Linked DNA regions of Homo sapiens. The protein of the gene in region 1 purifies or fractionates together with the protein of each later gene. This does not show direct contact. Each region holds a gene or a part of one and is shown on either strand. Other genes may lie near its edges. The genes, in order: SCP2D1 and EHD3.

The links.
Region 2: the proteins of SCP2D1 (region 1) and EHD3 purify together in Homo sapiens (affinity purification with mass spectrometry; one large-scale study listed by BioGRID and IntAct). This does not show direct contact.

The regions. Positions count from the first base shown.
Region 1 is NC_000020.11:18,812,250-18,814,946, forward strand, and holds SCP2D1 (SCP2 sterol-binding domain-containing protein 1), read left to right. Parts: upstream 1-1,533; 5' UTR 1,534-1,566; coding exon 1,567-2,037; 3' UTR 2,038-2,129; downstream 2,130-2,697.
Region 2 is NC_000002.12:31,267,243-31,269,972, reverse strand, and holds the end of EHD3 (EH domain-containing protein 3), read right to left. Parts: 3' UTR 522-2,730; downstream 1-521. UniProt on the Homo sapiens protein: ATP- and membrane-binding protein that controls membrane reorganization/tubulation upon ATP hydrolysis. In vitro causes tubulation of endocytic membranes. Binding to phosphatidic acid induces its membrane tubulation activity.

The DNA.
Region 1 (2,697 bases):
ACATCATGGACGCCTGCTATGGCACAGTGGGAAGAGCACAGGTCACCTCTGTGGCATCCTTGTCCCAAATGCATAACCTCCACCTAACCAGGAGAAAGCATCAGGCAGTCCTCAAAGGAGGGACATTTTTGGGAATAACTGGCCAGTATTCAAGTGTCAAGGTAACGATAGACAAAGATTGAAGAGCTGCCCCAGACTGCAAGGCACTAGGGAGACCTGCAACCAAATAGATATGGTCTCACATGGTCTGTAGATTAGTTAGTAGTCATGAACCAATGTGAATTTCTCAGATTAGATCACTGTACTGTGATTATATAAGATGTTAGTTTTGGGGAAAGCTGGGAGAAGGTTAAACAGGTACTATTTTTGCAAACTTTTTATAAGACTGAAATTATTTCAGAATAAAAAGTAAAGAAATAAACAGGTGGACTTTGGAGTCATTCTGCCTCTCCTCAAATCTGGCTACACTACTTACTAACTGTGTGACATTGGGCAAGTTACTTCATTTCTCCCCTCAGTTTCCTTATATGTAAAATGGGGATAAAAAGAATACCTATCTGGGAGGCCGAGGTAGGTGGATCACTTTAGCCCAGGAGTTTGAGACCAACCTGGGCAGCATGGTGAAACCCCATTTCTACAAAAAGTACAAAGATTAGCCAGGTGTGGTGGCACACGCCGTATTCCCAGCTACTTGGGAGACTGAGGTGGGAGGATCAAATGAGCCCAGGAGGCAGAGGCTGCTGTGAGCAGAGATCGCGCCACTGTACTCCAGCCTGGGTGACAGAGCAAGACCTTGTCTCAAAAAAAAAAAAAAAAAAGAAAAAATACCTATCATAGAGGGTTGTAATGAGAGTTAAATGTGTTAATACATGTGTAGTACTTAGAACTCTGCACCTTGGCCCAGAGCAAGGGCTATACTATTACGTGTAATTATCAGAGGAGACTGGCAGCATCTTCTGATCTTAGGGACATTTAATCTCTCTGTGTGTGTCTCACTGTGCTTCTGGAAAGTTTCTGATGCAGGCTCCTGGACTGATTCCTTCTCCAATCAATTACTCTGGCCTAAAAGCATTTCCCTTTCTACCAGCAGCCAGATAAAGCCAAATTCAGCACTAGGATCTGTAGTATTAACTTAAGTATTACCCACTTAATGGGACTTAAGTGTTACCTAGTTTTAGAGGAATAAGAATAACTTCTGTCTCACGTTGGGTTTCACTGAGGAGATGTCTGCATTGGAAAGACAGAGCTCATGTCACTAAAGAAGCTTCTGGGGCCAGTTTCCCTTAACCCCATTGCAGCCTGCAGACCTTTTGGGCTTGCAGGACCAACATCCCTGATTGGTTTGGGAGGGGCGTGTGTGTGTGGATCTGCCTCACAATGGCCTGTCTGAGCCCTTATCTGAGGTCACACGTTATCATTTGTTTGGCCAATAAGACTGTAGCACACACACCAGCTTCAGTCCCCACTTGGCCTTACCTTTGATGTCACAATCTGACCTGTGGGTATTAATCTGGTCACAGCTGCTCACAGACTAGATGGCAAGGTCCAGGGGACTAGCACAGGAAGATGTGGAAGAGAAGTGACCATCAACCCAAGATCAAAGCAGAGGATGGACCTCTGGTGGGCCAGTTCGAGGTTCTGGGTTCAGTTCCAGAACCTGCCATGCCACATCCTCTAGAGCTGTCAGAATTTGAGAGCTTCCCAGTGTTTCAGGACATTAGGCTTCACATCAGGGAAGTGGGAGCTCAATTGGTCAAGAAAGTCAATGCCGTCTTTCAGCTGGACATCACCAAAAATGGGAAGACCATTTTGCGGTGGACCATTGATCTGAAGAATGGTTCTGGGGACATGTATCCGGGACCTGCCAGGCTCCCAGCAGACACTGTCTTTACAATCCCGGAGTCTGTCTTTATGGAGCTGGTTTTGGGCAAAATGAACCCGCAGAAGGCTTTCCTTGCCGGAAAGTTCAAAGTGAGTGGCAAGGTTCTGCTTAGCTGGAAGCTGGAAAGGGTTTTCAAAGACTGGGCTAAATTTTAAGCATGCAAAAATACCAAGGAAGAACTTCTCTTCGATGATAATGTCGAGTGGAAATCATGCTTAATCTGAAGATTAAAGTAAAAAGTATCCAATATTTTTACTCAAATTCTTCCTATTCAAGTTTAATTGATTTTCCTGTTGATGGGTAAATTTTCAGGGAGGGTTCTGAAGCAGTAAAAAGCGTTGTAGTGCATCAATTAGAATCTTTGTCTTTTTCTCTTTTTTTAGCTCCATTTATGCCCTTTATGCTCCATTTATGCCAGGGTGAGAGCCACGTGTAAAGAAATGGGTGATTATGATCATTGGAATTAAATACTCCAATGATTGTGTTCTTGAGACATTTTTCCTTTTCTAAAAAAGTTTGATGTTTTGGGGAAAGAAGTGATAACTATCATTGTGCAGGTGTGCATTCTGCATGGTAACTTGATTCCATGAGGAAACTTTACTATGAGACTGTGGGGTGCTAAGGGAATGGGGCACCACAGGTCTGTGGGTGGAACCCAGGCAATAGAGGGGATGGTGCTGTTGGTGTATTATAATTTCTGATGGTTTCAATTCCAAGAAACTTGAAGGGCTTGGGAGGTGTTCTAGGCCAGTGGTTCTTAACTGGAGCATGCATCAGAATCACCGGAAAGGTTGGTTAAAGTCTGGATTGCTGGG
Region 2 (2,730 bases), on another chromosome or scaffold:
GGAGGCTGAGGCACAAGAATGGCTTGAACCTGGGAGGCAGAGGTGGCAGTGAGCTGGGATCATGCCACTACACTCCAGCCTGTGCGACAGAGTGAGACTGTCTCAAAAAAAGGGAAATGCAAATATAAGCTTTCATCTCCCCTTCACTAGACATTCCCTACAGGGCAAGTTCATCTCTCTGCTCCAAAATAGTCCTCCAGAATTGACTGCCAATTTGCAGACCAAAACATGCCCTCCTTGAGCTTTCACCTCCAGGGGTTGCCTTGGAACTCCCACCCTCCAGGGGCTGCCTCAGGACTTTCATTCACTAGGAGGTTATATCTAAAGTATGCCTACTTGGCCACTTTTAAAATTTATTTTTGCCCAGGAAGGCCCGACTCAACTGTCCAGTAGATAAGGCACCATGCTATCAGGCGGACCCTTGCTCACTTGCTCCCTTACCTTATAAAAGTGCCTGCTTTCTGCTCCAAAGGGGAAGCGGCACATTGAAAGGCAGGACGTTGTGTGCCCCTCCTCCAAGCTAGCTTTGGAATACATTCACTTTATTGGTATCAGACTTTACTCTTGTCCGTGGGACTTTGCATACATTGAGCAACTAACCCGCATTTCAGTTACATTCATGTCACACTTTGGTCATGATTTAGCTCTTTGGTACCAGGGGCAAGCTTTGCTTGGTCAGTAGCATAGGGTGTTGCTGTGTTTATTGGATGGATTCCATGGCCCAGACTGAGTAATGTCGGGGCAAGGAACAACAGGACAAGTGCTCTAGAAATTCTTGTCTGTGGGGCTGACATGACATGTCTCTGCTTTCCCTATTAAATGTTTCCTGGGCTGAGGCATGAGATCTCCCAGGCCCCTGAAGCCTGGAAGGGGTCAGAAAGCCAAGGCAGCAAGGCTAGAGGGCACTGCCAGGGAAAGTGACCCACATCTGTCCCCTCAAACATCAGTTCCTCTTTCCAGGGAGATGGGAGCTGTGCAAACATGGAATTCCCACACCTCACAGGTCTCTCCTGGGTGGAGACTTCAAGATGGAGAGAGGGAAGAGAGGCAGCATATGTAGAAGGGCAGGAAAGTGGCATGTGTGTCCAGTGGCAGTGAAGAAAGGGGATAACAGACATCTCCCTTTCCTATAAAATAAAAAGACAGGAACTTCACCTACCTCTGCTATTTCCTTCCCATTTCTCCTTCAGCTTGAAGAAAGGTGTGGAGTTGAGAAATGGTCCCTAACCTGCACTCGGCACTCAAGGGTTTTCTCCAGAGCAGGTGAGACCTCTTTGCCTGGCCTTTGTCTGCCCTTCATTTCATGTGAAAGAGAAATGTGTATTTGCAGAAGGAAGCCCAGGGGCTTAGGGAACATCTTCACTCCAGAGGAGCAGGGAGCGGTGGCTCCACCAGCTGTGCCTGGGTTGGTCACTGAGCCTAGACAAACTCCAGCCCACTGGGAAGCTGGTTGTGGATGCTGGCCATTGGGTGGCCCCAGTGAGCCCTTTCCAGCCAAAGATTTCACCAGGAACTCCAAGTAAGAACCCAGCCCTTCTCCCTCAGCCTCCATTGAATGATGCTCTGTGGCCAGGCAGGTACCAAAGAATAAATGTACTGTATTAACATGAAGACTAATGACAAATGCACTGCAGTAGTAAGCACGTCATAGATGCATAGAATATTCTCTATATAGTCTGAATATGGATATAAAATAAGTTATACTCATTTTGTTTTCCATCACAGTAGGAGCATAGCATACAAAGTGATTGGTTCAGTGGCCATGAAGCAAGCCAGGGGAGAGACCACAGAAGAGAATGTAGGGCATTGAGTACAGTGGGGATTTGCCAAGGACACTGCAGAGTCCCTGGGGACCCTCTGGGGAACAAGGCCCCAAACCTCTCAAGTTAGCCTTCTGAGAATAGTATGAGGTCCCACTTGACAAGAGACAGTGGCTGCATCTGAGCTGGGATGATTCAGGCAACTGGGTGGGAGGCAGAGCAGGGACAGGCACGAACAGCATCCAGCAGGCTAGCCCACTCTCCTGCTGGTGCTGTTGGATGTCTATGATGCTGGGAATATGGGGCGCAGAGCCAGAAGGCACGGTTTGCTTCTGTGACGTGACAGATGGCCAGACTGATGGGCCACCAAATGCTGGCCGGCCCTCCTCCCTTGCCAGCCTGTCCTGGGAGGCTGCAGGGGGCCTGCATACTTTGCTTGTTCTCCATAGTTTGTCATTGGGTATCAATGCTGGGATCCTGCATACATCATAGCACAGACAAGTGTGTGAGGGTCTGAGGCCCTGGCTTTGAATCCTCTCTCCATCACGTGACTTCTGTGAGTTTCAGAAGGTCGCCTAAACCCTTCTGAGGCTACTCAGCCTCCTCAACTGCAAAATGGGAAGGCTAATGCATACTTCCCTGGGGCATCAGTGAGGGCCACATAGAATAATGTATATAAAGTGCCTAACACAGCTCCTGGTACGCAGGAGGGGCTGGGTAAATGTGAGTCAAGTATGAACATCTAAACATCATAGGCCAGGTGGAAAGAACATCTAACAAAATCTATGAACTAAAACCACCTTGACTGGTTTTCAATAGACTACAGGACAATTTCCTCACTCTTATCAATTTTTTTCTCTTCTCTCTCCCGCTCTGGGATTCTTTAAAATGAAATACTGGCAGAGTTCAAAGCAAGGTTTGCCGAAGAAGACAGAGGCTTAGATTAGGAAAGAACAGAGCTCCTGGGCCA